7 separate regions of the Homo sapiens genome follow, and regions 2, 3, 4, 5, 6 and 7 are each linked to region 1. Evidence: fine-mapped expression QTL. A gene starts in region 1. Each other region holds a variant in brackets. All regions are shown on one strand. Distances are between the middles of the regions. Region 1 holds the start of FAM20C (FAM20C golgi associated secretory pathway kinase). Region 2 has its middle 47 kb from the start of LINC03015. Region 3 holds the start of LOC105375114 (a long non-coding RNA gene). Region 4 has its middle 41 kb from the start of LINC03015. Region 5 overlaps LOC105375114 (a long non-coding RNA gene). Region 6 overlaps LOC105375113 (a long non-coding RNA gene). Region 7 has its middle 16 kb from the start of FAM157D.

The links.
Region 2: its variant is fine-mapped to the expression of FAM20C in fibroblasts (GTEx, PIP above 0.99).
Region 3: its variant is fine-mapped to the expression of FAM20C in whole blood (TOPMed, PIP 0.99).
Region 4: its variant is fine-mapped to the expression of FAM20C in whole blood (TOPMed, PIP above 0.99).
Region 5: its variant is fine-mapped to the expression of FAM20C in whole blood (TOPMed, PIP above 0.99).
Region 6: its variant is fine-mapped to the expression of FAM20C in whole blood (INTERVAL, PIP above 0.99).
Region 7: its variant is fine-mapped to the expression of FAM20C in whole blood (TOPMed, PIP above 0.99).

The regions. Positions count from the first base shown.
Region 1 is chr7:189,844-194,199 of GRCh38, forward strand. It overlaps FAM20C (FAM20C golgi associated secretory pathway kinase), which reads left to right and starts at 2,728. Exons shown (of 10, transcript NM_020223.4): 1 at 2,728-3,961. The coding sequence starts at 3,357. LOC124901808 (a long non-coding RNA gene) reads right to left here and starts at 275. Exons shown (of 2, transcript XR_007060632.1): 1 at 1-275.
Region 2 is chr7:99,874-104,229 of GRCh38, forward strand. No RefSeq gene overlaps it. Among named protein-coding and RNA genes, the nearest start is that of LINC03015, 47 kb to the right of the region's middle. The variant C/T (reference allele first, on the strand shown) is at 2,100.
Region 3 is chr7:117,792-122,147 of GRCh38, forward strand. It overlaps LOC105375114 (a long non-coding RNA gene), which reads right to left and starts at 1,640. Exons shown (of 3, transcript XR_926959.3): 1 at 1,006-1,640; 2 at 117-270. RefSeq lists a silencer at 2,044-2,262. The variant G/T (reference allele first, on the strand shown) is at 2,383.
Region 4 is chr7:106,240-110,595 of GRCh38, forward strand. No RefSeq gene overlaps it. Among named protein-coding and RNA genes, the nearest start is that of LINC03015, 41 kb to the right of the region's middle. RefSeq lists an enhancer at 2,435-3,151. The variant T/C (reference allele first, on the strand shown) is at 1,849.
Region 5 is chr7:112,131-116,486 of GRCh38, forward strand. It overlaps LOC105375114 (a long non-coding RNA gene), which reads right to left. Exons shown (of 3, transcript XR_926959.3): 3 at 526-3,767. Among named protein-coding and RNA genes, the nearest start is that of LINC03015, 35 kb to the right of the region's middle. The variant TG/T (reference allele first, on the strand shown) is at 2,160.
Region 6 is chr7:78,469-82,824 of GRCh38, forward strand. All of the region lies in intron 1 of LOC105375113 (a long non-coding RNA gene), which reads right to left. LOC101929756 (a long non-coding RNA gene) reads left to right here. Exons shown (of 3, transcript NR_187733.1): 2 at 1,662-2,826. Among named protein-coding and RNA genes, the nearest start is that of FAM157D, 45 kb to the left of the region's middle. RefSeq lists enhancers at 3,062-3,834, 3,835-4,356. The variant T/C (reference allele first, on the strand shown) is at 2,032.
Region 7 is chr7:49,445-53,800 of GRCh38, forward strand. No RefSeq gene overlaps it. Among named protein-coding and RNA genes, the nearest start is that of FAM157D, 16 kb to the left of the region's middle. The variant G/A (reference allele first, on the strand shown) is at 2,352.

The DNA.
Region 1 (4,356 bases):
TCTATGTGTATATTATCTCTGTGTTCATCTGAGTATTGTATGTCCATGTGTGTCTACATGTGCCTGTGTCTGTATCTGTGTCTGTCTATGTGTCTATGTGTGTATCTGTGTGTCCGTGTGTGTGTGTCCATATATCTGTCTATGCATGTATCATCTGTGTGTCTGTGTATTGTGTATCCATGCATATATCCGTAACTATGGGTATGTCTGTGTGTGTTTGTGTCCACGTGTGTGTATCTGTGTGTGTCTATATATCTGTGTCTATGTGTGTGTCTGTGTCCACGTGTGTGTATCTGTGTGTGTCTATATATCCGTGTCTGTGTGTATCTGTGTGTATCTATGTGTGCATCTGTGTGTGTCTGTTTTCTCTTTGTTTTTATGGTGTCCACGGATGGGCCGACTGAACCACCAAATTCCTCCTCAGAGCCCAGTAAAGGCACCAGGCGGAAGGGTCTGGCGGAGGGTTGGCCGCTGTCTCCTCACTCCTCAGCGGGGTCCTGTCTTCCGACTTTTGTCTCGCGCCGCCGCAGCCTGTGGACTCCTGGGCCCTCCTCTGAGAGCCTGCGCTGTGCCTGGCCCCGGGCGGAACTTTGAACGAGGCTCCTGTCTTAACTCGACTGCTTGTGCTTGGGGGAGATAAACAATAAACAGGAGCAGAAGAAAGTGTCCTCAGACCACGGCGGGTGCTGTTGGGAAAACAGTGGCGGGGCAGGGAGGGGGGCGCTTCTGAAGGACCTGGCGAGGTAGAGGCCACTGTTCTAAGAGGCAACAGACGAGATGAACCAGGACCCTCTGCGAGGGAGGGAGGCGTCCAGGGGTGCACACGGGTCCAGATAGCTGCCGGGCTCCCAAAAACCACTCTGGGGGTGAGGATGGGAGGGGAGAGGAGTTGGGGGCAGGAGGCAAGTGAAAGTAAGTGCCCAGGGAACCTCCATGAGGCCCCCCACACCGGATAATAGTGTTCCATGGGGTCTGCTCAGCCCCATGTCTGCCCCAAGACACTAGCCACAGCTCTGCGTCGAGGTCCTGTAGACCACGGGAGAGATGGGGGGGCCAGGAGCCTATAGAACTCCAAGTCCAAGGGGACCCTTGCTGGGAGAACACAGGCCAAGACCTTCCTTCCTGCCACAGGCTTCTGTCCCTGCTGTCTGCTCCCCCAGGACTCCCCCCACACCCGGGATCTTCCTCCTCACCCTCCTTGGCCTCTCTCAGTGACCCTGTCTACACACAGATGTGCTGTCCATGTGAGTGGAAGGAAGGAAGGATGAGGTCCACTCACAGGGGTGAAGCTGTCTCCTGAGGGGGCAGCCCACCTCCAGGTCACACCGCCCCACCCAACACAGCCTCCAGTCCAGCTCCAGGTGGGCCGCACCCAGCCCTTCACTCACTTCAAATGGCCCAAGACGCATGGATTCCACTGGCCAGCCGGACTGGAACAACTTCTCCCCTTATAAGTATCTAGTGGGTGCCCACGGAATGCCAGGCAATGGGCCAGGCTCAGAGATGAGTGATTCCTCAGGAACAATGGGCTCAACGCCCTTAATTCACATCAGAGGAAACTGAGGCTCAGAGAGGGCGGAGAGGGCCCTGGTAACACAGCCAGCCGGTGAAAGTAAGAGGGGGGGCCCAGGCCCTGCTCCCGGCCCACCCGCCTGGGCTTGCTGGCGAGGCTGCTGGCCCAGGCAGTCTGGGCACTGTGGAAGCAGCCGGCTTGAGGCACAGGGGATGTGGCCTCCTCCCACACACTTACCTCCCTGACTACATCTTAGGCTGACATCCAGATTAACTCATATTCCCTACAGGGAGCTGCACGGCCAGAAGCTGCTGGTTGCAGAAGCCACCAGCTGGTTGTACAAGCACCGCTCCCCTGGTTGTGGGTGACAGATGAGATGCACTCACGTGAACACACATGCATGTGCACACACACATGCACACAGACGCACACACAAACACACACAGGCATACACACGCACACGCACATCCACACACACACATGCGCACACACACGCACACGCCTGCACTCACACACCCCCGTCGGCCCCAAGCAGGAAGGCGCCCCCGGCACACCAGCCCCTCTCAGCGCCCCCAGCGGGCCCGGCGCCTGGAGGGTTAAGGCGGGCGCGTCCCGCGGGTGGGCGGGGGGGGGGGGACGGGACCGGTGCCGGGAGCTCCGCTGCCCTGGCGTCCCCTGGGTCCAGGCCCAGTCGCTCCTTGGGCCTCTCTCGCGGGGCCGCCTCCGCCTCCTCCTTGCCGAGACGGGCGTGGGGCACGGGGTCGCCGCCCGGCGGGGAGCTCATCCGGCGGCGCAGACGCCCCGCGGCTCCGGGGAGGGACTTGGCCTGGGCCCCGGCCCCGCGCTCCTCTGGGGAGGAGCCGAGAGGCTGCAGCTGGCGGCGGCGGCCCCGGGCGGGAGGGGGTCCCAGGAAGCGGCCAGGCCGGAGCCCCCCACTCGGCCGCAGCTGCTGGCCTGGCCAGAACCGAGCGCGCCCTCCCGGTCTCCGCCGCTTCCCTCTGCAAACCGCGGGCAGGAGGAGCCCTCTCCTTAGCGGGCCCGGAGCTCAGAGGCGTCGCGGGGCGCGGCCGAGGGGAGGAGGAAGGAGAGCGGGAGCGCAGCCGGCCCGGGCCCAGCCGTGACTCGTGGGGCGGCGGCTCCGCCAATCTGTGGGCGCTGACGCGGGGGGCGGCTCCGCGGCGCTCGATATCTGCCCGCCCGGGACGCGGGGCGCCGAGAGGCTCGGCCAGGCGGGAGCTGCGCTCGGGGCGGCCGCTGCACCTGCCCGGGACCCCGCCGGCCGCTCCCCGCGCCCACCCCTTCCGCCCTTCGCCCCCCCCTTCCCCCCAGCCCCGGTCTCCCGGGCGCGGCGTGAGAGCAGAGCCCGGCCCGGAGGAGCCGCCCCTTCCCCGCCCGCCCGCCCGGCGCCTGGAGAGGAGCGCGCTGAGGATCGGGACGCCTGCGGCCGCCGCCACCGCCCAGGCCCGTCGCGCCCCGGCCGGGATGGACCCACACGCCCGATGAGCCCCGCGCCGGCGGCTGCGAGCGCCGAGCCTCCCCCTGCTGCGGCCCCAGCCGCCCCCCGCGCGCCCGGCTCCGCGGACCAGGACCCCTGGGCTCCCCGGCTGAGGGCGCGGCCGCTCCGGAGAGGCCGAGCGGGGACGGGCCCGAGATGGCGCGGGGACCCAGCGCTCCGGCGGCGGGCGCCCTGCACGCGGCCCGGGCCCGGGGACAGCCCCGGAGCTGGTAGCCGCCCGGCACCGATGGACCTTGACCCGCGAGGCGGCGCCGCGCTCGTGCCCAGCTGCAGCTAGAGGGGCGCGCGGGCAGAACGCGCTCCAGGCCCGGGCCGGCCCGCGCGGCCATGAAGATGATGCTGGTGCGCCGGTTCCGCGTGCTCATCCTGATGGTGTTCCTGGTGGCCTGCGCGCTGCACATCGCCCTGGACCTGCTGCCCAGGCTGGAGCGACGCGGCGCGCGGCCCTCGGGGGAGCCCGGCTGTTCGTGCGCGCAGCCCGCCGCCGAGGTGGCCGCGCCCGGCTGGGCCCAGGTTCGGGGCCGCCCCGGGGAGCCCCCGGCCGCCTCCTCCGCCGCCGGCGACGCGGGCTGGCCCAACAAGCACACGCTCCGCATCCTGCAGGACTTCAGCTCCGACCCCTCCTCCAACCTCTCGTCCCACTCGCTGGAGAAACTGCCGCCCGCGGCCGAGCCGGCCGAGCGCGCCTTGCGGGGGCGGGATCCCGGCGCCCTAAGACCCCACGACCCCGCGCACCGGCCGCTGCTGCGAGACCCCGGCCCGCGTCGGTCCGAGTCGCCCCCCGGCCCCGGCGGAGACGCCTCCCTCCTGGCCAGGCTGTTCGAGCACCCGCTTTACCGGGTGGCGGTTCCGCCGCTCACGGAGGAGGACGTCCTGTTCAATGTGAACAGCGACACCAGGCTCAGCCCCAAAGCGGCGGAGAACCCGGACTGGTGAGTGGGGGCTGGCAGGTGCCCACCCCCAAGGGAGCCGTGAGCCCAAGGCATGGTGTAGAGAGGTTCAGGGGCCCCAGAGGGCCGCCCCCCATGGAAGAGGCCGGGCAGGGAGTGTGGTGCGGGAGGAGGCAGCCGCCTACCTCAGGGCGCTGCCTTTGTCTCCAGAATAACCTCCTCCTTGGGAGGGGCTGCCGGCTGGTCCGGGAGCTGTGCCCTGTGGCTGCTGGTGAGGAAGCCAGACCCCGCGCCCTTTAGAAGCGAGTCCTGACCAGCCGTGGTCACCAGCTTGGGAAATGGGGTCAGGCAATGAATGAATGAGTTGGTGAGGGAAGGAGCCAGGCTGCCGCTGGGCTTTCAGACACTTGGCGAGGGTGCTCTGGGTGGGCACCTTG
Region 2 (4,356 bases), 90 kb before region 1:
CACGTGGAATATCTTCCAAGAGAGACCATATGATCGGCCACGAAACAAGTCTTAACAAATGTAAGAGTTTGAAATTATAGAAAATATATGTTCTGATCACAAAGGAATGAAACTAGAAATCAACAGCAGAAGGAAAACGGGAAACTTCACAATTAGTGAATATTTAAAAACAGACTCTTAAGAAACCAAAGGATCAAGGAAGATACCACAGGGAAAAATAGAGAATATCTCAAGACAAATGAAAACAAAAACGCAACATACCAAAACTTATAGGATGCAATGAGAGCAGTATTAAGAGGGAAATTCATAGAGGTGAAAACTTACATTTAAAAAGAAGATGGATCTCAAATAAACAACCTAACTTTACATCTCAAGGAACTAGAAAAAGAAGAACAAGTTAAACATGAATTAGCAGAAAGAAGGAAATGGTAATGATTAGAACAGAGATAAACACAATAATAGAAAACAATAGAAAAATCAACAAACTGAAGAGCTGGATTTTTGAAAAGATCAACAAAATTAACAGAAACTCTTAGCTAGATTAGCTAAGAAAAAAAGAGGGAAGACTCAATTAAATCAGAAATGAAAGAGGCCCCTTACAACTGATGCCACATAAATAAAAAATATTGTAAGAGAATGTCATGAACAATGGCTATATACCAACAAATTGGGTAATCTGGAAGAAATTGAAAAATTCCTAGAAATATACAACCTACCAAGATTGAATCATGAACAAATAATTATCTGAAAAGACCTATAACTAGTAAAAGATTGAATTAGTCATCAAAAATCTCCCAAAAAAGAAAAGCCCAGGACCAGATGGCTTTACCGGAGAATTCTACCAAGGATTTAAATAATTAACAGCAATCCTCCTCACATTCTTCTGAAAAGCTAAACAAGAGGAACACTTCCAACCTCAATGTATAAGGCCAGCATTATCCTGATACCAAGCCCAGACAAGAAAGCTACAGGAAAAGAAAACTACAGACCGATTTTCCCGATAACTGCTGATGCCAAATCCCCAACAAAATACTAGCAAACTGTATTCCGTAGCACATTAAAGGATTATACTCCCTGACCAAGTGGGATTTACTCCTGGAATGGAAGGATGGCTCAAAATATGAACATCAATCAAGATAATCTGCCACACTGTCATAATGAAGGACAAAAACTACACGACTGTCTCAATTGATAGAGAAAAAGGACTTGAGAAAATCCAACACCCTGTTATGAGAAAAACTGTAACTCTGCATGGTTGCGTCCTGTTTGCACCCTGAAGTTCTCCAGACCTACTTTCCCAAAGGACCCAACAGATTCAAGCCTCATCTGCAGGAGAATCGAGTCTCTTCCATCTCCGCGGGCCTGGGCAGGTCTGTTTCCTCTCTGGGTCTGCCATTCCCTTCTGACCAGGGATAGAGATCAGCCTGGAAAGCTGTAAGCTGCACCTGCCTGAGGAACCTAGGTGTGCCCTTTCCCTGTGACCCTTCCCTGAGGGTGTTCCAAAGGCACATGGCAAGGCTGCTTCACCCCAGTCATTCACGGGACCCTGGGCCCTAGGAAGCCAGCTCCAGGCCTCTCCCTAGCATCACTGATCCAACAGGCTTGAACACACACCCTCCTTAACTTCCCTCCTTTCTCTGCATTGGAAACTAGGGGAGAGTTATTTGCCTAATTATGCACGTTGTTTAGTGCCTTTGAGCATCAACATTTAGTGTTATGCTCCTGAGAGGCCAAGTGCTTTACAGCATTTTCTTCAGTATTATATTCCATGTTAATTGCAAGCAGGCCTATTAAAGGCAGGGCTGACTTCACAAACAGCCAGCAAAAGCACAGAGGGGCCGCACTTGCAGGCAGCAGGCCTCAGGCTCATTAAGGAGACCCAGAAAGCTGAGGACTCCTTGCCCTTGAAAGGCCCTGTGTACAGCCAGCATGCCGGAAAGAGCCTCGGAGCTCCGTGGATTTCAAGGCAAAAGGGAGCCAAACATGCACGGATGCCTCTTTCCTGTGCCTGGGGGTTTGTTTCTTCAGGAAATTCCAAATGGGTCTCATTCCCTGGAATTTCAATTGCACCATTGCTTAGTCACTCAACAGTCATCTGT[C/T]ACTCACCAAAGCCACAGAGTGGGGCCTGAGGGTCACTGGTGTCATGGATACACTTGCTGATTTGTGACCCAAGTCAGGTCTGGATTACAAAGGGCTTTGAATGAATGACTGAGGTTTTGAGGCCAGATGATAGAGAAAGGCAGCCATGGGGGATTTTGGAGAGAGGCCAGGGTGAGCGGTGGGAAGACCAGGCAGGAGAGTCCAAGGGCATCCGTGGAAGCGCACCTGGGGTGGAGAGGACTCGTGGTCCAGATGAGGCACCACTGAGCCGCGTTGGGAGAAGCCTGCAGATGGGAGGTCACTTGGCTGTGAGCAGATCCACGCCTGGGAGGTGGCAGAAGCCAGATGGGATACCATAAAAATCCACATTTAATTTTTCCACTGGTGTGTGCGCTTCTGGAACTCCCCACACAGCAGCCCACACAGCAGCTTAGGAGTGGGTCCATATTCCGACTACTTCATCTCTGGTGTAATCATGACACTCTCTGGCTACCCCAGGAGGGCATGCACCAACATGGCGCTGGGCATAAATTTGAGACTGAGCTGCCTTAGGTTCGAGTCCAGCTCTGAGCCAGCCAGCTGTCCTCAGCAGTGCTCTGGACCCCTCTGCCCTTCAGTTCCTCATTTATAAGGTGGGAGTAATGGAAGCATATCTGAAGCGTGAAGCCGGGGCCTTGTCTGCTCTGAGCTCCCTCAGGATGTTCCAGGCATGTAATGGGGAGAGCAGAGGCTGAGACCTGAGAGCCAATCACATGTTTCCCATCAAGAAGTTTCGACACAGATTCTAAGTCTGAGGAAAAAGGCAAGACTACGGTTCAGCAACAAACTGGGGACTTCAATAACACACTTTCGTTATGAGTAGAACAAGTAGGCAAAAGATCAACAAAGAAATGTCAGATTGGATCAGTTGGCCGGCATCTGCAGAGCATGAGAGCACGCCACCAGCAACCACAGAGCACGCCACCCCGCAACCGCAGAGCACTCCACCCAGCAACCGCATCCGCAGAGCACTCCACCCAGCAACCGCAGAGCACTCCACCCAGCAACTGCATCCGCAGAGCACTCCACCCAGCAACCACAGAGCAGTCCACCCAGCAACCGCATCTGCAGAGCACTCCACCCAGCAACCGCAGAGCACTCCACCCAGCAACCGCATCTGCAGAGCACTCCACCCAGCAACCGCAGAGCACTCCACCCAGCAACCACAGAGCAGTCCATCCAGCAACCGCATCTGCAGAGCACTCCACCCAGCAACCGCAGAGCACTCCACCCAGCAACCGCAGAGCACTCCACCCAGCAACCGCATCCGCAGAGCACTCCACCCAGCAACCGCATCCGCAGAGCACTCCACCCAGCAACCGCATCCGCAGAGCACTCCACCCAGCAACCGCATCCGCAGAGCACTCCACCCAGCAACCGCAGAGCACTCCACCCAGCAACCGCAGAGCACTCCACCCAGCAACCGCATCCGCAGAGCACTCCACCCAGCAACCGCATCCGCAGAGCACTCCACCCAGCAACCGCATCCGCAGAGCACTCCACCCAGCAACCGCATCCGCAGAGCACTCCACCCAGCAACCGCATCCGCAGAGCACTCCACCCAGCAACCGCATCCGCAGAGCACTCCACCCAGCAACCGCATCCGCAGAGCACTCCACCCAGCAACCGCATCCGCAGAGCACTCCACCCAGCAACCGCATCCGCAGAGCACTCCACCCAGCAACCGCATCCGCAGAGCACTCCACCCAGCAACCGCATCCGCAGAGCACTCCACCCAGCAACCGCATCCGCAGAGCACTCCACCCAGCAACCGCATCCGCAGAGCACTCCACCCAGCAACCGCATCCGCAGAGCACTCCACCCAGCAACCGCATCCGCAGAGCACTCCACCCAGCAACCGCATCCGCAGAGCACTCCACCCAGCAACCGCATCCGCAGAGCACTCCACCCAGCAACCGCATCCGCAGAGCACTCCACCCAGCAACCGCATCCGCAGAGCACTCCACCCAGCAACCGCATCCGCAGAGCACTCCACCCAGCAACCGCATCCGCAGAGCACTCCACCCAGCAACCGCATCCGCAGAGCACTCCACCCAGCAACCGCAGAGCACTCCACCCAGCAACCGCATCTGCAGAACACTCCACCCAGCAACCACATCCGCAGAGCACTCCACCCAGCAACCGCAGAGCACACACACTTCTCAAGTGTGCTGGAGCTTGCTCCAGGAAGAACCACATGTTGGGCCACAGAGAAAG
Region 3 (4,356 bases), 72 kb before region 1:
TCCCCCCGAGACTGGCCTGCACCTGCACATCTGGGGGGCGGGGCCCCGAATTGTCCTGCCACAGTGGCCCCGCCGGCAGGGAGATCAGAGGAAGAAATAAAACCCTCAGGCCTCACCTGGGATCCAGATTCGAGGCCGGAAGAGCAGACTTTGCCGGGGGCACTCACGCAGATCCCCACGTCTCAGGGCACCGCAGTCCTATTACCATAAGCGATCATGCAAAGGTGTGGTAAAAGCCATCTGTCATTCATAAAATGTGATGATGCCTTTCTGCAAAGACATAAGCCATCCCAGGGCTCAGCCAAGAAATGGCCATAAAATCTGGCATAATGACCTCAAAGCACACTTTCCAATATAAAGGTTATTCTAGGCAGCTGTTTCCTGATTATTTACGTGCAATAATTTTACACCCCCCAGACTCTGACACGCTCACAGCCTGACGCCCTCTCTCATCAGCAGCACTGAAGCGTCTGTGCGGAATTCTTACGATGTCGTGTTCCCTCAGCACCCATTTGGGGCTTTGTCCTCCCAGAATCGGGGCTCAGTCACCCTTGACACAGTTTCCAGTTCTCTGCCTTCCCCCAGTATCTCAGGGTGGTCCCTCCAGACACCTGCCTTACTCAGACGTCTCCTGGTGACCACCCCGCTATGGGACAGCCCACAGGACTCGCCCAGACCCCACACCCTGCAAGGACTGTGTAGCTGTCCCACAGCAGACCCCTCCCAGTTCCAGTGTGACCTCGTGGGGCTGTGGCCCACTGGCTGAGTGCACCCACCAGAGCTTCCTGTGGGAACCTGCTTGGGCAATACCCTGGACCCCAGTGAAGGCTTTGACCACAGCCCCTGTCCCTCTGGCTGTGTGCGTCCAAGACAGCGCCCCGTTCCCACCACCAGCCCTGCGAGGGGGCTGCCCTCTTCTCTCTGGATCTGTGAGTCACGCTGTTAACTCCAGCATTTTGTGGAGTTGCCACCTGAGTCTCACCTGACTGGCACACCTCAACCCACCTCTCCTCCCGTCGGCGTGGTCCTTTGGCGTGGCTGTCTTGGCTGGAATAAACTGCATGCAGGTGTCAGCCAGTCTCCTGTGACAGGGACACTCGGTCCCGGGTCGGACACCTCGGCCTTAGGCCGTCCACCAGGACAAAGAAGGGCCGACCTCTGGAACCCCAGGTTAGTCGCCTGGAAAAGGGAGGAACGGTCACCACGACACTGCCCCTGCCCGCAGCTTAGGGACGTTTCTGAGGTAAACGAGATAATGGTTGGAGTGTTGAGCACAGTCTGGCCACAGAGAACGTGAGAAGCCATTGCCAGTGTCATCATGTGGTAATTGGGAAGTTTCCGTGAACCGCTGCAGCAGGGAGTTTAAAGAAGATCAGCAGAGGCCAAAGACTCCTTAGCGGCAGGGAGGGGAGGGCAGAGAAGAAATCAGGTGGGGGAGGTCGAAGGGAAGTGGGAACGGCGGGCACAGACGTCCCTGAGCCCGGATCCTGGTGCCCTCACCCTAAGCCAGCAGCCCACGACCACCCAGAGGCCAGGAGGCCCCCAGAGCCCCCAGCACCCACGGCTCCCTCCAGTGGGAAGAGTAGGATCAGCCCAGAGCCCCTGCTGAGCCTGGACAAGGGGAAGGAAGGGGAAGCTCAGCGTGGTCACCCGGCAGTTTCTCCACTCTGAACCGCGTGCTGGGGGTCACGGGGCTCCCGCTGCTGACGAGGAAGCAGGGCCCACCCTGTCCAGCCTCGGCCTCTGCAGACCTGAGCGCAGCCCCACGTATCCCCACGATGGTTGCCGTCCCTGCGTGGGTTTTATTTTCTCCACTCAGCGTCCTGTGACCACAGAGATGGCGTGAGGTAGGAAGCTGTACAGCCCCAGCACGGGGCCCACGAGAGGAAGTCTCCAGCAGCAGCTAATCCTGGGCGGAGATGACAGCCCGGAGCCTTGGGCTGTTTAAACTCCAGCTGCACGGAAAGCCTCCAGCTGAGAGAGTTTCCCAGAGTCTGTCCCCGGGGTCGAGCCTTCGGGGGCCAGGCCATGGGAGCTGGGTCTTCCTGTGCCTGGAGCCTTGTCCCCTGCGGACCTGCAGTGTGGCCAGATGATGAGTCTTGCACTGAGCAGAACTCCTTGGGCCTTAGGGGGTTCTGCCACCACCCAGCCATCATTGGCAGGGCAGGGAAGGCCGGCCCACACCCAGGTCTCGCTGCCTGGACCCTCTGGGGGAGCAAGCTTTGAGCAGGAGAGGGGCCAGGAGCCCCTGAGGAGCAGGAGCGAGGGCTCAGAGCCACAGAGAATTCCTCAGCCAGGCCTGTGACAAACACAGCTGCCACTCCTCTTCCAGCCCCACTGCCCCAGCCACATCACATTGGTCCTGGTCACTCGCAGGGAAGG[G/T]CACTCACTGTCCAGGGAGAAAACCCATTCCTTTCCTCTGGTTCTCTTCCCCAAAGACATGCAAATACTTTTTCCAGGAATTTTCTAACAGCAATGATGCACGGACCCTTAACTTTAAACTGACCTAGAGGCCCAGGAGAGCCCAATTATTTCTGGCACAGGCACCTGGGCACAGGGTCTGGCCTGGTTCACTCTGGAGTGCCTGAGTCATGGTGGAAATTCAATATTTGTTAAGGAAATTGGCAAAAGGATGAATGAAGAAAGAGAACATTGCACGGTGTGTTCAAAATGTCCGCAGCTATATTCCGCTGTGAATTCAGGAGCTTGTTCCACAGTGTGTTCAAAACGTCCGCAGCGACATTCCGCTGTGAATCCATGAGCTTGTTCCCCGGTGTGTTCAAAACGTCCGCAGCTACATTCTGCTGCAAGTTCAGGAGCTTGTTCCTAGGTGACTCCGGCACATAGGCTGGAAACACTACACTCACCGGGGGCTCAGCCCCGCACACCTGTGTGGGGAGGGAGCGGGGAGCGTCGGGGAAGAAGGAGGGGCCCGCCCCGTGAGACTGCGGCCAGGTCCTGCCCACGTGCCTGCTCTGCTGGGCTTGCAGCCAGGCCACCTCCCTGGCCCGGACCCCTCAGGGCCTCTGGACAGGGGCTGCAGGCTGCCTCTGGACTCTGCTCCTGGACTGGCCTCTGCTGGACGGCGGCGCCCTGCACCTCAACAGCCAGCCACACCAGGCATGGCCGTCACCTACAGGTGAAGCTACAAATTTAACCTCATATAAGGGAATATAACCATGGCCAAGGAGCGAGGCAAGGCTTTTTAAACAACATGTCAACAGCACAAATCAGAGGCAAGTGAGAACCAAGTTTTAAAAAGATGAATGTGGTATAATCAGCATTAAAGTTTCCTGTTCGGTCTGGGACTCCTTGGACCAAGCATTACTGGGAGGCAACCTGAATGCCCTCGGTGTGAGCGTGGAAAGATGGCAGCTTCAAGGCTGGGCTCCGCAGTGGGGCAGGCCCCGCCCTGGACGAGCACGCGGCCACACAGAGGGTCCTCTTGAGCACGGTGACTCCCGTACCCGTAACAGTCAGGCCGATTCTTCAAGAAAACATACAAACTAAAAGATGTCAAACACAGCAAATTGGCTGCCCATGGAGAAGGGTGGGAACCAAGAGAGGCACTGGCAGGAAAGGGGACCAGTCGGTGAGTGGAGAGAACCTGAGGGTCTGTGGGGCCAGCTTTCCCAGGTGCTAAGGAACAGGACCTCAGATCTCTGAAGCTAAGGGCTGGGGGAGCAGAGGAGGGAAGATGGGAAAGAGGGAGGGAGGAGTAGGGAGGGAGTGGGAGGTGGAGAGGAAGGGAGGAGGGAGGAGGGAAGGAGAGAAACGGAGGGAGGGAAGAGGGCGGAAAAGACAGGGAGGAGGGAAGGAGAGGCAGGAGGGAAGGAGGGGGGAGGAAATGCAGGAAGGAAGGAGAAGGAGCAGGGAAGGAGAGAGGACGGAGTAAAAGGGAGGAGAAAAGGAGAAGGAGGGAGGGAAAGGGGTGGAGAGGGGCAGGGGAAGGGCAGGGAAAGGCGGTGATAAGAAAGGGCATGCGAACCTGATAAAGCCAGACCAGGGTGTCCGATGTGCATCCATTTCCTCTGATAATAGGCTCCTCCCCAATAGCACAAACAATAAAGAGGAAAAACACGATACTATTTTAGGAATGGAGGTAAGTACGTGAGTGGAGATTCCAGCATCATTTGAAGATGACCAGGCAGCCCGCAGCAGTGGGGACCTCAGCGGCCCTCTGTGAACCCAGGGTCCCAAACACGCATCGGGAGACCCAGCAGTGGATCCTGACAGGTACATCACACCTGGAGTGGGAAATGCCTCTCTCTTCAAGAAGCCGTGAAACCTCTTCTTTAACTTGAACTTATGTCAAATCCCAAGAACACTTAGACCATATTCTCCAGCCAAAATCCA
Region 4 (4,356 bases), 84 kb before region 1:
ACATCCAAATAAAAACTTGAACACAAACGTTTGTAGCAGCACCACTCATAAAGCCAAACAATGGAAACAGCCCCGATACACGTGACTGGCGAATGGCTACAGAAGATGTGGTGTATCCGTACAACAGGATGTTATTTGGCCATGAAAAAGAATGAAGTACTTATAAAAAAAAAGAAAAAGAAAAAAGAAATGAAGTGCTGACACAGGCTACAAGGTGGATGAGCCTGAAAACATTATGCGAAGTGAAAGAAGCCAGTCGCAAAAGACCACGCACTATATGTTTACATTTTGAGAAACGTGCAGAACCCATAGATACAGAAAGAGGATTTGTGGTTCTTTAGGGCTGGGGGTGGGGGCAGGGCTGGTGGCTGAGAGTAGCTAAAGGGTGTGGAGTTTCTTTTTGAGGTGGTGAAAATTTTCTAAAATTGACTGTAGTAATGGCTGTAGAACTCTGTGAATATACTGAAAACCATTGTACACTTTAAATGGGTGAATTGCATGGTATGTGAATTATAACCCAGTAAAGCTGTTTAAAAAATAGTGGGGGGCGGGTGGAGGGAATGAAGAGAAGGTGGTTAATGGGTACGAATAAACGGTTTGGTAGGAGGGGTGAGTTCTAGTGTTGATAACACAGTGAGGGGATTATAGTTAACAACAACATACTGTATATTTTGAAATAGCGAGAAGAAAAGATTTGAAATGTTCCCAACATGAAGAAAGGATAGACGTTCGAGGTGATGAACGTCCTAAATACCCCAATTCCATCATTACACATGGCATGCGCGTATCCAAATATCTCATGCACCCCATAAATATGTAAAATGTTATGCATCAATAAACAATTAAAGGTATAAGCGTTGCAGAGTGTCTTCCTTCCAAATAATACAGTATGAAAAGGGAAAAAGAGCAACTTTACAGTGGAGAAAACTGGAAACCTCTGCCTCAGCCACATCGCCGAGGTTGACATCACCGGTGACAAGTCACGCAGACAGCAAGGACGTTGGTGTGATGCTGTGGGAAGGTCACTTTCCATCCTCCCCACAACCCGTGACCCCAAACTAATCACAGGAAAAAGATCAGACAAGTCCCAAATGAGGGACATTCCACAAAATACCCAACCAGTCCTCCTCAAAACTGTCAGGATCACTAAAAATAAGGAAAGTCTGAGAATCTGTCACAGCTGCGAGGGCCCTAAGGAGACATGAGGGCCAACTGTAACATCATACTTTGGATTCTGAGGTAGAAAATGGATATTAAGGGAAAACTGAGGGAATGTGAATAAAGTATGGACTTTAGTTCCTACTACTGTATCGACATGGGCTAATTCACTGTGACAAAGGTACAGTATAATGTGACAGGGTAAGAGTAGGGGAACCTGGGTGTGGAGTATACAGGAACTCTGTGCTATCATCACAATTTTTCTTTATATCTAACAATGTTCTAAAATGAAGTTTATTTTAAAAATAAAAAATAAAGACAGGGGTCCTTGATATCAATAAACCCCATGAAAATACATTCATTAATAATCAGGGAAGCACCTCCCCCAGCACATGTGCATATGACACCCATGCACACACTCAAGCACACGTGCACATGACACCCAGGCACACACTCAACCCAAGCACATGTGCACATGCACACCTGTGCACACACACTCAACCCAAGCATGCATGCATGTGTGCATCTGTGCCCACAGTCAACCCAAACACGTGTGCACCTTACACCCATGACACACCCAACCTGAGCACATGCACACATGCTCAACACAAGCACGTGCACACATGCATACCCATGCACACACAATGCAAGCACATGCACTTCTGTGCACACACATGATGCAAACACATA[T/C]GCATTGCATGCCCATGCCCATGCAGTCAACCCAAACACGTGTGCACATGCACATACTCAACCTGAGCACATGCACCCATGTACACATGTGCACACACACTCAACCCAAGCACACATGCACATGATACCCATGCACACACACTATGCAAGCACTTCTGCACATATGTGCATGTACACATGCACTCCATCCAAGCACATGTGCACATAGACACCCATGCATGCTCAACTAGAGCACATAAGCAGATACATACATGTGCACACACACACAACCCAGGTATGCATGCACATGCACGTCCATCTGCACACTCAACCCAAGCATGTGCACACACACACACTTGTACACACACACTCAACCCAAGCACATGTGCAGTTGCACGAATGTGCATACACAACCCAAGCACACACTCAACCCAAGCACAGCTCACCAGGGACAGAGGCCCAGGAACAGACTCTGACAAAACAATGAAGAGAATCCAAAAAGCAATTACACTGCCAAGTATTACGCAAACACAATTATTGGAATTGCTAGTCAAAAACGGTTAATAGAATAATTAAGATAGATTGACCTAAAAGCTGATTTTAAATTAACCTGACATGTGCATATACTATCTAAATAATACTCTTTCCTCTGATTTAGTCTCTCATTAAAATCAGATTTCATTGGGAGAAATTATACATTTGCACCATCATTGGGAAGAAGAAGCCATGTTCACTCACCCACTGATGAAAATAGGAGATTATTAGAGGAAGTAAAATGGGAATATATTTTCCTGGCCTTCCCTGGCACAGTGTGATCTGTCCCTGTAATAAACCACCGCTTCCTCCTAGCCTGCCACTCGGGAGGTGAGGGAAGCCAGTTAAGATGGCCTCAACTAAGGACCCCAAACCACTAGTGTCTGTGTGTGTCTGTGAAGCTCGCTCACGGGGGAAGGGCCCGTGGGGTGGGCAAGAGCAAGGAAGAGAAATGAGCACTTGGAGACGCCAGGCAACCAGGAAGACCCAGAGGAAACTCGGTACGTCTGCATTGAACACGTCTTCATGGGTGAGAAAACTGCAGCCAAGGAAGGAGAGGGATTGTTTCCAGGCAAACAGCAAGCGCTGGCAGAGAGGCAGGGACAGAGGCTGTTTTCGGCATCCAGCATCTCTGTTCAGCTCATGATTCCCTGCCACACCCCAGATAAAATGAACCCCTGTGGGGGTTTGTCTGTGCACGCGTCCAGGGCCTATCCTGGTCTGTGTGAACAGACTGGCCCTGCATCCCAGCACAGAAGCCTGGGCTGAGCACCAAAGGCCCCCAACTGCGGGAGGCAGGTCCTGGTCACTGCTCCCTCCACGGCCATGGCTCCAGTGTGCAGATCTCAGCTAGTGTCTAAAACACGAAGGCACTGGGTCACTACAGCTATGGGCCTCCTTGTTCATTGAAACCCTTGGAGTTACCTCGTTAACACTTTTTAAATGGATAGCCACTTCACATTTTTTAAGATAAAGAATTTCCCCATTAAAATTATTGAGATTCAGTAATAACACATTATTAGGATAAGCAGGACATGTAAGATGCTACAAAATGATCTATTACTTGGAGGATTTTAAAACCCTAATGAGAAAAACGCTCACTACCATTTATTCGTTCTCTTAGCCTTCAGCACCATTAGTCTGAGGAGCAGCATAGGGCTGGGGCTGGCTGCATCCACACTCACCCCTCTGATTGCTCCAGAACCTTTTCTTCAAAGAGAAATCTCTGCACTCTGCAGGGACGGTAAGTGGCGACCCTTAGGTAGCTGAAAGCACGGGGAAAAGAGCAGGAAGAGGTGGGAACATGGAGATGGAGAACACAGGGAGCGGCACGCTCAACGCAGGTGGAGTCTGTGTCCCCTCCAGCGATAGCCAGAACCAGGACCACCAGGGATCCGACATCACTGGCCCCATCCCGTAGGGTGGGCTGTGGGCAGGGAACAGCTGAATCGCCAGGCCACTCTCAGACCCTTGGCAGACACAAGGAATAACAGCTGTGGCCGCCGCTGTGGCCGCAGTCCCAAAGTTTGGAGAGAAATAGCAGCAAGTAGCAGCACCACTGTCCGTCAGCTTGAGTGCTTCTCGGACAAAGGAAGACAGTTCTCCTGTTTCCCAAAGACTTGCAAAGGCTGTGTGTTCCTCAGGCAGCTACTGCGCCATCGGCCTCTGAGTGATAAGGAAAGGAACCAGGGCTCAAACCTACTCCTGAGTGAGTCAAAGCAACTCCGCACTCCCTGCCAGCACTGAGGGTGACCCCCGAGCCCTGCTCAGGAGCTGTGGGGCCCGAGATCTCCCCTCCGCCCCGTGGGCAGGGGAAGGGCAGCAAAGGCTCTCTGCCACGCCTGTGTTCGGGCTCCAGAACTCTTGGCCTGGTGTCTGGAAGATGGGATTGCTGCCTTGGACAAGCCTCTCCTCCTTGCTTTTCCCTTTTTCTCACAGTGGGGTTTAAGCTAAGGTCCTATTCCTAGATCACTAATAATGATAGCAGGTGCCATT
Region 5 (4,356 bases), 78 kb before region 1:
GTTTATTCTAGCCCAAGTCATAAAAATTCTTCTGTATGTTTTCTTCTAGAACTTTAAAAGTTCTAATAATTTTCAGTCCATGATCCATCTCAAGATAATTTTGCATGTGGTGGGAGGTAAGGCTTGAAGGTTATTTTGTTTTTCCATGTAGATATCAACTTATCCTGGCACCATTTATTGAAACAGCTAGTTCTGAAAGAATTAAATTTTTACCTTTACCAGCAATCAAGGGACTATATAAATGTGGGTCTTTCTGACTTCCCCTTCGGCTCAGTTGGCCTCTGTGTCTTTCCTGATGCCAAAACCACACTGTCGTGATTACCATACCTGTATAGTAATTTTTGAAATCAAGTAGCGTGGGCCCCACAACCTTGTTCTTATTTTTCAAAGTTGTTTCTGGATATTTTAACCCTTTTGTCTTTCCATGTAAATCTTAGCATCAGCTGTCTCATTTCTTCAAAAGGACCATAAGTGGCACGGTAGTATATTGATGAGCAAAGACATACAATCGATTTTTCTATGAAAGTTAAATGCTGCAACTTGGCTAAACTAATTTTATTTGTACTAATAGTTTGGTTTTTATGGTGGTAAAATTCACATATTATAAAATTCACTATTTTCACAATTTTGAAGTGCACAATTCAGTGGCATCCAGTGCGTTCACCACGTTGTCGGCCCCAGGACATTCGCATCACCAAGAAAGGAGACACCACATCAATCGAGGTGTCACTCTCTGTTCCTCCCTTCCCCCAGCTCCTGTCACCACTAACCTGCGTTCTGCCTCTTTAGATCTGCCCATTTCGTATAACTGGAATCATATAACATGCGGCCCTTTGTGTCCGTCTTCTTTCACTCATCATGTTTTCAGTTTCAAGGTTCATCCATATTGTGGCATGTTAGGGCTTCATTCCTGTTTGTGGTTGATGAGTAGACCACGCTTTCTCAGTGCCTATGCTAGTTGTTTGTAAGTTTCTTAAGATACTTCCTCATACATGATTCATGATATCTGCATAAAGAGGCAGTTCTTCTTCTCCCTTTCCAGTGTTTATGCTTTAACTTTAATGTCATTTAAAGCTACCTGTGTCTCTGTTCTTCAAGTGCAATTTTGGAAGACAGCATGTGTGTGGGTCTTGTTTTCATATCTATTCTGACAACCTCTGCGTTTTACCTGAAATCTTTGGTCCACTCATATTTAAATAAGTATTGACATGGTTATGTCTGGGTCTGTAATTTTATGCCTCGCTCTCTATACATACCCTCCAGTTCCCCCCTTTGTTTCTCATTTCTTAACTTTTTTTAGGGTTACGTGAATATTTACTGATTGATTTTTCTCCTCATTATATTTTGTGAATATACGTGAATATTTATTGATTGATCTTTCTCCTTATTAAGCTTTTTCAGCATGGTATCACCTCAGTAGTAGAGCATAATCAGTCCTAGACTAATTTAGGCCCCACCCAAAAAAGCTTAAAATCAAGCCTCAAATATATCAAATTGTTTCCAAGTAAAGTAACTTCATCCCTGAAAAGTTTTAAAATAATTTTAGGAGTGCAAAACTATCCAGGATCTAACAAGGAAAAGTACATGATGTCTAGCATACAGTAAAAAATCACCAAGTATGCAAAGAGGCAGGAAAACACATCATGTAATGAGGAATATCAACAAATTGAAACTAATTCACAAATGGCACAGATGAGGGCATTCCTAGACACAGATGAACTGTAGTTATTATCACTCTATTCCACATGATAACGTTAAGCAGAGATATGAAAAACATTAAAAAGTCCCAATTCTAACTTTTAGAGATGAAACCATTTCTGAGATAAAGAAAATTCACTGGATGAGATGATGAGATTAGACAGACACTACAAAAGGAAAGATTAATGAACTTAAAGGTATATAATAGAAACCATCCAAAGTGAAACACAGACAGAAAATAGACCCCTTCAAAAGGAGCAGAAAGCTAATTGGGGGGCAACTTCAATTGGCCTAAAATTCATACATTTAGAGTCCCAGAAAGAAAACAAAGAAAAAAAAACAGAAAAAAAAGGAGGACATAATGACTGAAATCTTTTGAAATTTGCTTTTTAAAAGCTACATATCCCAGTCCAAAAAGTATGAAGTACGAAGAAGGCACATCTTAACCAAACTGCTTAAAC[TG/T]GGTAAGAACGAGACAATCTTAACAGCAGGCAGAAGAAAAGAGACGTGCTGGGTACAGAGGAACAAAGACAAGGATGACGACAGGTTTCTCCTTGAAAATGAGGCGAGCTAGAGGACAGTGGAACAAGCTCTGCAAAGTACTGCCGGGAAAAGCCTGTTGATTTGTGATTCTGTACCTGGCAACAAAGGTAGAAACAGGGTGAGATATCAAGTTTTTCAGACATATAAAAGCTAAAATATTAATCATACCAGCAGATAAGCACTAAGAGATATTAAAGAAAGTCCTTTGGACAAGAGGAAAATGACATTATAGGAGACCCGATAGAAGCACAGGAAGGAAAAGCATGTTTTGCTGGGTATAGAACATGTAGAGAAATAAAATATGTGCCCACAAGGACATGAAGGAGGGCAGGGAATGGAAGTGTGCTGCTGTAAGGTTATTAAACCATCATGATGTAGTGTAATATTATTTGAAGATAGATTATGATAAGTTGAAGGTGCACACTATAAACCCTAAAATGTATACACACACACGCACACATACATATGTACAGACAGAGTTATGGGGAATAAGCCAACAGAAGTGATTAAATGGGATGATTAAAAAATACCCAGTCCAGAAGAAGGCTGGCTAAGAGGAACAGGAAACAAAAAGTAGACAGGATAAATAAAATGCAAATAGCAAGATGGTGGTTTAAGTCCAACCATTATCAACAGTGATGGTAGATGAAAATGATCTATAACCATTGGTCTAATTCAGTGGCAGTTTGTCAGACTTAATAACAAAGCAAGACCCAACTAATTGCTGCCTACCCAAAACCCACTTTAAATATAAATTCACAAATACATGAAAACTAATGGGATTTTAAAAGATACACTGTACTAACACTAGTCAAAAAAAAAAAAAGCGGGAACAGCTATATTAATATTGAACAATGAACACAACCAGCATTATAAAGAAGGTCATTTTGTACCAGCCTTTAGCTGGGCTTCTTTTATCTGCTTTGAGTGTGTGCAGTTCAGGGCCAGTCGGAAACATGAGTAGAGTCCGCCAAGTTTCCCCTTCTGGACGCTCCCCCCCTCCACTGGCCACAGCTTCCCCAATTTCGTCCTGCTCCTGTTCCAGGCCATGAAGACTGTGGTCTTCCCTGAGGACCCCCAGCTCCTCATGCCCTAACTACATAGTGCTCAGGCTAACAGCCACGGTCAAAGAGAACGTGCTTCCTGCAACTCCTTTATCCCCCGTGTACACCCCAGGTCCGTCTTGCTGTTCACTCTCCAACGCCCACAAGCAGCCTGTTTGCATTGTGTACAGATTTTGAAGCTGTTTTCTGTAAGGGAGTGGGTTTGGTGTGATCTTACAAAATCCTTACAGGAAGCAGAACCAGCAATTACCCATCCACTTTTAGAACTGCCTTGTGCATGAACCTTTTGTCCTTTGAGTCACACTTGGAAAAAGTGTAGGCTTCGTCTGTTGCAAAGGTCATGGTGGCTTCACTCCAAGAAACTTGAGAAACAGTTATTGTTTTAAACAGGGCACAACTGCAGTGTCCTGAGGAGCCCTGCATGGCCATGGAGTTTGCTGGATGAGGGATATGGACGGGCTCCTGCAGCGAGAACAGAGACAGAGAGGGAGAGGGAGAGACAAAGAGGAGACAGAGAGGGAGAGGGAGAGACAAAGAGGAGACAGAGAGGGAGAGGGAGAGACAAAGAGGAGACAGAGATACAGGCAGAGAGAAGTGGGAGAGACAGAGGAGAGAGAATATCTGGCAAACACATTCCACTTTCGGATTCCTGCTCTGGACATGGAGGCCTGCTCTTCTCCATAAGCCCTCTCCCTTCCTTCAACGTCCTCGGGAAAAAGCGAAGCAGACCCTTTTCCCTCCCTCGCCCTCCTTGCCCTCCACAGGGGCTCTTTCCCATAACCTGCTGGCTGGTCTCTGTGGCTGAGTTCTGCCCATCCAGGAATGGACTCACCAGTGTCCCGGTCCAGCCCCATCTCCCCTCCACACTCAGGAGCTCCTCGGGTGAACTCGGTGCTAGCCAGGCACTCAGCACCAGGCTCGCAGGCTTCTTCCCAACACCTCCAGCCTGTGCCCCACCTGCACCCACACCCATCATTCTGCTCCGGGCTCTGCCCCGAGGCCCCCAGTTCCCTGAGCTCGCCCATTCTCTGGCCTTCACCCACACTATGGC
Region 6 (4,356 bases), 110 kb before region 1:
AGCTCAGTGGGGGAAGCCCCTTGTCGACTCTAGGCAGGGGGGATTGTACCGCTGCCTCTCCCAGTAGCAGCTCCCAGGAGGCAGTACAGTCACGGGGCCCCGCTGGTAGAAGCCTGAAAAGTCCATCGGGAAAACCTCAAAGGCCACCAGTCCTCGAGGTAGCTGCTGCTCCAGCTGTGCTCACCTGGAGTGGAGGGGCAAACGGCACCAGGGGTGGGAGAGGTCAAGGCAGAGCCTCTGCCCCATCCTAGACCAGCTGCACGAGACGACAGCTCACACCAGCTGCCCAGAGGCACAGCCCCTCTGCCAGGCTTCAGCAGGGCACGGCTTGATCTCAAGGCCCTCTCTTCTCGTCCCACCGCCCCTCCCTCCTGTGACAGGAGGACCAGCAGTTCCACTCTGAGCCCGGCTGAGGCCCGACCTCCTCCACCTCAGCCCTGAGAATCTTCTCCAGCTGGGATGGCTGTTGCCCTGTTGTCCTGTTGCCCTGTTGCCCTGTTGTTCTGTTGTCCTCTTGTCCTGTTGTCCTGTTGTCTTGCCCTCCCAGCTCCTGACCACACAGGGGCTTTGTTCCCGCGCCAGCCTCTTTGGGGAAAGTGGGGGAGGGGGGCCCTGCTCCAGGCTCTGGGACATTTGGCTTGGGCTGTAGCCTGTGTCCAAGGAGAAGAAACCCTGAAGGTGGGTTCCCACCAGATGTGGGCATGGTCAGCTACATCAGGCCCCCAAAGGTGTGCACATCCTAATCCCACGAACCCGTGGGCACGTTACCTTACATGCAAGAGGGGCTCTATGGATGGAGTCGGGATAAGTGTCTAGAGATTGGGAGGTTGTTCTGGGTCATCCAGATGACTTATGAGAGGGCCCTTATGAGAGGGAGACAGCAAGCTCACAGAGAGGGCCATGGAACAACAGCAGCTCAGACACAGCAGAGGCCGCACAGCTGTCCTGGGTGCCGAGTAGCTGCAGAGGTCGGAGGAGGTGCAGAGCAGGTGTTCTGCAGCCTCCAGAGGGACCAGCCCTGCTGACTCCCTGGCTTTGGCTCAGTGAAACTCATTTCGGACTTCTGAGCTCCAGCTCTGCAAGAGAAGAAATCTGTGCTATTTTAAACCACTAAATTTGTGGTTTCTGTTTCAGCAGCAGTGGGAGAGGGCGAAATGCTCTCCAGCTTGGCACCCGCAGCCCAGCTCAAAGGCAGGGACTGTGGTTGCTTTGCAAATGAGGGAGGCTGGGTCCCTGCCCTCACCGGGCTTACCATCTAGGTTTGGAGAGGAGTGACGTAAGGTGAAGTCAGAAAAGAATCATAAGAAAAGAGAGTCCACACCCTGGAAGGATCTGAGGCAGAAGGAAGCTCTTGCTGAACCACCTGAGAGGAGGCGGTCTGGCCTGAGCACCCTGGGGGGCCTGCGCCCCCACTTCGAGGCCCCTCTGGAAGGTGCTTGGCTCTCCGGATGACCCCAGCACTGGGGAGACCCGCTGTGCTTTCCAGGCAGCACAGACACCTCGGTGTAGGTGTTGTGGTGCCACAGGGAAGGGTGTTTCTTCCAGCCTGGTTCTCAGGACGGGCTGCTGGCTGGAACAAACCCCACCTCTATCTGAGCCACCAACCATCTGAACCGGTATTCTCTCTATCTGACAAATATTCCTCCTTCTTTACATCCCAGAAATGGTGAAAATGCACAATGCCTCAGGACGCCTTGAGGAAGGAGCAGCGTGTTGCTGCTGAGGGTGAACACACGTGGTCTCTGAGGAGAGGCGACAGATCTCCCTGGGCGTCAGTCATCCTGGGACTGGGTGTCGTGGAAGAAGGTGACACCAGGCAGAAACCAAGAGCAGGGGAGCTGCAGGCCGGTATCAGAGCCCGTATCAGAGCAGAGTGGCCCCTGAGCGGGGAGGCAGCTGGAGCTCACTGTTGGAGGAGGGCCCGGCACCTGCACCTGAGGACATGAGTCTGAGGCCTGCGGAGAAGCCAGGTGAGACACCGCTGTGCTTCTCTGGGCCACGGCCCCTCACGGCTGCATCCAGTCACCAGAG[T/C]TCCTCTGTGCCTCACCCACCCTTGATCATAGAAGACAGCCTGCATGTCCTCAGCTCTGTCCTCCAACCGGCTGCCCGGGAGGCCTCCCTGGCTGCTCCCCAAACTGCACGTGCCCTGAGTCAGCCCTGGGGCCTCATGGACTCCCCTGTTCACGCATCCCGGCAGCGCGCAAACCATCCCTGTCGGCTCCCAGTGAAATGCTACAGGATCTCAGGGCAGCTGCACCCCGCAGGTTCAGAAGGGATGGGATTCTGTGTCCTTTTCCTTCTTGCTTCAGACCTTCACCTGGGGCTCTAACACCGAAAGTCTGTGCCAGACAGAGGCATCCACAGCGACAGGAGCCTGGGCCAGGGCGGCCATCCCTGCTGCAGAGACAAATGTCAGTGTCCATGGAATCAGTTCGGTGCGGTGAGCGGCAGGTCTGATATGAAAGCTACTCGCACTTCCCGTCTGGGCAAGAGCAGGAACTCGGCAGGCAGAGAGCTGGTGGAGCTTTCCATGGGAAAACCAGAACCTTCAAAGAGCCCGGCCTCCCTCTGATCAGCCCCTTCTTTCTGATCAGATGCATTATTGACGAGGCAGCCTCCTCCACCTGCCTCTCATCAGAGCAGCTCGTTTCCCACCGTGGTAATTTATACTTGTGATTTTGGCCTTGATCAATAAAGGCAACGGAGAAGACGCACCCGTTCATTTCCTACAGGAGGGGCGGAAACACACAGGCCTCTGTGCAGAGCTTTCCTGGGCTCTTCTGAAGGCAAGCAAACCCATCAAAGGGAAGATCTGCACGCTGAAAGGTCAGCAGTTCCCTTTTCCCCATGGGATTTGTGTTAGCAACTTTGCGAGTGGAAGATGCATTTGGAACTGCCAGTCCCTTACAGCCCTCACATGGGAGGTGCAATGTTCATCCTGTCACTATTTTAAAACTCGTCTCAGGGTTGGGAGTAACTGAAACCGTTTTGGGCTTAATTTTGCATGAGGACGTAGCAGAGCATGACAGAAGGGAAAAAGAGAAAATGCTGGCAAAGGAGAAATGGCCCTAAGAGGGAAGCCGGATCCCTAGCTGGGTCGGAGTAGATGAGCGGGGAATGAGGGGCTGGAGGATGCAGCTCCGAGCGTGCAGGGGTGGTGTGCTCTCGGGAGGGAGCTGCTGTGGAGCTACTAAGGAGGGAGGCTGAGGGGTGGGAGAAAGCCCAGGGCTGTAATCGTAGCCCCTGGAGCCTGATTTAAAAGACTGGAGGAGGCAAAACCTTTCCTGGGTGACATCCATCCAGGGCATGACCCTGCGGCCTCCGTGTCTGCTGTGGGCGAGGCTGTCCCTGCAGCCAGCCCTGCCCCCATCCCTTCCCTTCTAGGGATGTTGGAGTGTGGGGCAGCCCAGCTTCTGCCCACAGCACAGATGAGGAACTGAGGATGCAGGGGCCCGTGGGGGACGGCACACGGTCAGCCCAGAATTAGGACCTAAGGTTGGCCCTATGGGTTCCTGCAGCACAGACGTGCAGCATGTGCACCCACATGTACACACAATCAGGCATAGCCACAGAGAATCACACCCTCCCACGCACACCCACACCCACACACCCTCCCACAGGCACACGCGCACCCTCACACTCATGGTCTCGCCCTCCCACAGGCACACCTACACTCACCCACGCCTACAGGCACACAAGCACACACTCCTTTCCCCCCACAATCCCTGCACACCCGTGGGCACCTATGCTCTCGTGTGGTCTGGATCTGCCCTCTGTGTGCACAGCCTGTGCCTGGCCCAGCGTGAGTGACTCGTGGATGCTCTGCAGGTGAGACCTGAGGTGAGTGTCCTGGCACCGCCCGGGCCTGGCTATCGGGAAGCTCCGCCCAGACGGCCGCCTCCTCCCTGGCGCGGGCCTCTTCCCTAGGAGGAGCTCGTTAGCTTGTTTTTCCATCGGTATTCTTTGTCCCCAGTCACCCGGACCTGGGGCTGGGCACTGCCAGGGGCAAATGTGCCATGTGGAGAGGCCAAGCGGGGGACAGGGGCGGCTTGTCCGCCAGGTGGCACCGAGGCGGCTGCGTGTGGGGCAGTGTTCCCACTCTCGTCACCAGCCCGCACTTCCCGCTGCCTCTGAGTATTCTGTGGGGGCTGCCCCGGCTGCAGCCCCAGGTGTAGCCTGCTGGAAATCTCACGGTGTCCAGGCCCCATCCCTAACCGGCCCGGGGCATCCCTGATTTCGTGCTCACCGAGAGGGGCCTCCCTCGGCCTGCCCAGCTAAGAGCCTTGCAGGAGCCCTTCTCCAGCCTCACACTGCCAGCCCCTTTGAATTGCAGCACTCAGGTCCCCAGGAAAGGTG
Region 7 (4,356 bases), 140 kb before region 1:
AACAATGATAGACTGGATTAAGAAAATGTGGCACATATACACCATGGAATACTATGCAGCCATAAAAAATGATGAGTTCATGTCCTTTGTAGGGACATGGATGAAATTGGAAATCATCATTCTCAGTAAACTATCGCAAGAACAAAAAACCAAACACCTCATGTTCTCACTCATAGGTGGGAATTGAACAATGAAAACACATAGAAACAGGAAGGGGAACATCACACCCTGGGGACTGTTGTGGGGTGGGGGGAGGGGGGAAGGATAGCACTGGGAGACATACCTAATGCTAAATGACGAGTTAATGGGTGCAGCACACCAGCATGGCACATGTATACGTATGTAACAAACCTGCACAATGTGCACATGTACCCTAAAACTTAAAGTATAATAATTAAAAAAAAAATTAAAAAAAAAAAAAGAAATATCATCTCACCCCAGTTGTGATGGCGTTCATCAAAAAGACAAAAAATAACCAAGGGAACTCTTGACACTGTTGGTGGGAATGTAAACCAGTACAGCTACTGTGGAAAGCAGTGTGGAGGTTCCTCACAGAACTACAAACAGAACTGAGGTAGGAGGTGGGACTCAACTCCAGAGGTGGGGCTCGAACACCGGACCAGATTGAGGACTAGCTAAAACAGGGCTGGGGCGGAAGCAGCTTTCAATCAGACACACCCACCAGTGCCATGGAAGTTTATCGTTGCCATGACGACACCGGGAGTTACCGCTCCTTTCCATGGCAATGACTCAATGACCCAAAAGTTACTATGCCTTCCTTAGAAATTTCTGCATAAACCGTCTTTAATCCGCGTGAAATTAAAAGTGGATTAAACATGACTGCAAAACTGCCCCGAGCTGCTCTTCTCTTCTTACAGGGCAGAGAGGGTAGCCCTGCTCTGCAGGAACCGTCTCAGAGCTGTAACATTTCTTCTTTATTAATAAAGCTGTTTTTGGCCGGGCACAGTGGCTCACGCCTGTCATCCCAGCACTTTGGGAGGCTGAGGTGGGCGGATCACGAGGTGGGAAATTCAAAACCAGCCTGGCCAAAATGTTGAAACCCCGTCTCTACTAAAAATACAAAAATTAGGTGGGCGTCGTGGTGCGTGCCTGTAATCCCAGCTACTTGGGAGGCTGAGGCAGGAGAATCTCTTCAACCCAGGAGGCGGAGGTTATAATGAGCCGAGATCGCTCCACTGCACTCCAGCCTGGGTGACAGAGCAAGATTCCGTCTCTAAATAAATAAAGCTGTTTTCTTCTTCCTTTGGCTTGCCCTTGAATTCTTTCCTGGGCAAAGGCAAGAACCCTTGCAGACTAAACTCCACCTTGGGGCTCACCTGCCCCACATCAGAACTACCATAAGATCCAGCAATCCCACTCCTGGACATTTATCCAAAGGAAAGGAATCGGTATATCAAACCAATATCTGCAACCCCATGTTTATTGACAATAGTCAAGACGTGGAATCAACCTAGGTGTCCAACAGCAGATGACTGGATAAAAAACGTGGTATATACACACAGTGGAATACTAGTCATCTGTAAAAAAAAATGAAGTCCTGTCATTCATGGCAAAACGGATGGAACTGGAGGACATTATGGTAAGTGAAATAAGCCAGGAACAGAAAGTTAAATACTGAATGTTCTCACTGACATGTGGAAACTTTAAAAAATGTTGCTCTCATAGAAGTAAAAAGTAGAACAGAGGATATTAGAGGCTGGGAAGGGGAGGGAGAGGGGACGGATAGGGAGAGATTTTTTAAAGGATATGGAATTACAGCTGGATGGGAAAAATAAGTCCTATGGTTCTTTGGCACTGTAGGGTGACTATAGTTAACTATAATTCATAGTTTCAGATAGCTAGGAGGAGAAATTATCGTGTTTGAGACGATGGATGTGTTCGCCACCCTGATCTAATCCTTGATTCATTCTATGTACTGCAGCATCCCTGTGAACCCCACGAATATGTGCCATATTGTGTCAATTAAAAAAATAATAAGAAGTAATTGAGAACCCTAATAAGTATGGTTTATCTATTAACATTTACCATGTTAAAGATGAAAATGGAGAACAATTTAAAATCTTAAGAGTATTAGTCTCTAGAGGGACAGGACTAATAGGATAGAAGTGTATATGAAAGGGAGTTTATTAAGTAGTATTGACTCACACGATCACAGGGTGAAGTCCCACAGTAGGCTGCAAGCCGAGGAACAAGGAAGCCAGTCTGAGTCCCAAAACCTCAAAAGTAGGGAAGCCGACAGTGCAGCCTTCAGTCTGGGGCCAAAGGCCCGAGAGCCCCTGGCAAACCACTGGTGTAAATCCAAGAGTCCAAAACTGAAGAACTTGGAGTCC[G/A]GTATTCAAGGGCAGGAGGCATCCAGCGTGGGAGAAAGATGAAGGCCGGAAGACTCAGCCAGTCTCGTCCTTCCGCATTTCTCTGCCTGCTTTTATCCCAGCCACACTGGCAACTGATGAGATGATGCCCACCCAGATTGAGGGTGGGTCTGCCTCTCCCAGGTCCACTGACTCAAATGTGAATCTCCCTTGGCAACACTCTCACGGACGCACCCAGGAACAATACTCTGCATCTTTCAATCCAATCAAGTTGACAATAGTAACCATCACATTAAGTAACCAATTAGTGAAAACTCATAATGAATCCATTATGCTAATGAACATCAAGGATTATGTTATGTTCATAACATAACATGTTACGAAAATAACTATATTTTCTTTAGAAACTGGTGACAGGAGTAGCATTGTTTAGATGTGTGAATGCTCCTGCTGCCTGGCTCCTGGGAAACAAGTTTCCCATGTGGAATTCTGTATTCAGTCTGCAGTGACATCACACGTCAGTTGCCTCTGCACACTTGTGAGAGAACGGGAGTGGAAAAGGCACTCAACACTTCAGCCATGAGAGGAAACCTGTTTGAACTAAGAGTCCCCTAAGAGGGGAGCCAGCACCACTTAAAAACCTTTAAGTACTCTCAATAGAAATCTTTAGTTCACAAGATGTTTTACAAATACCTTATCCTAGTCTCCATATCATTTGTGGAAGGGAAAGTTTAGATTTTATTATTATTTTTTAAAAAATTATTATAGATATATTTATTATTAAATTTTAGTCAATTTTATTAATCTTTTGATCATGTGATTTTTCTATGTATTTTGCGAAATCCACAAAATGTATTCAAAATATATTTTCTTATATTTTCATCTAAAGAGTCTTGCTATATTTATAAAGTTTCTCAGTCCACCTGAAAATAACCTTTGTGTATGTCTTGAGGTATAGATCTAAAGGTATCTTTTTTCAAAATGAAGAGCCAATTGCCCAAACGATTGGGCACTTTATTTGTTTTCTAATAGACTAAGTTTCAACACAGAAGAGGGTCTTCTTTGGTGCTCTGTACTCTTTTCCTTTGGTCTATTTTTCTCTTCTACCAAGATATCATGTGGCTGTAATTGCAATGGATTTATATGGTGTGCTTATATCTGGTGTAATGTATCCTCGACTTACTTTTTCTCCTTTAAAAGTATCTTGGTTATTATTGTCCTGTATTGTTTTTGGAGTCAGCCAGTCAAGTTTTAAAAAACACGTAAACAGATGCAGGTGAACGTGTCCCCATGGGTGTGTGCTTGGTGGGAACTGCATCAAATTCATCACCTCACTTGGGGAGACTTCATCGCTTTACCATGCAGGTCTCACCACACCTCCCCATTTATAGACATCTTTAAAAATATTCTTCACTGATATCTTTATTTTTTCATAAAGTTATTACCCTTGTCTTAGTTGATGTATTCCTAGGTAACTGATAACTTTTGTTGATGTCAAATGAAATTGCTTTTTATAATTATGAATTGGGTACTGCTGATAGTTTTGTTTACTAGTCTTGTGTCCAGTTGAACTCTCTTATTTGTTATGACCTTTTAAAATGTAGATTTTTATAGGGTCAATAAAGAATGATGGTTTCCTTTTATTCCTGACCCATTGTTCCACATTTAGTTCATTTTCTTGCATTATTGCACAAGCCGGTAACTCTACCCGAGGTTGCATAGAAAGGGTACATAGAAAGGGCATATCTTTGCCTTGCTCCTACCTCCCAAAGGCAGTTTCTGAAGCTTCACTGTCACATGTGGTGGCTGCTTTTTCTAGTCTATGATTTAGATGCTGCTTTTGCATCAACTTAGCTGTGGATTTTTTTTTTAATGAAGTTTCACTCTGTTCCCCAGCCTGGAGTGCAGTTGTGCAATCTTAGCTCCTGCAGGCCTAAGTGCTCTCTATAAACCCCAAGTGCAGCAGGCGGGAGGAGACTCTGGCTATGCACAAAGTTTGCTGGTGGGAGGACAGAGCCAGGAACTC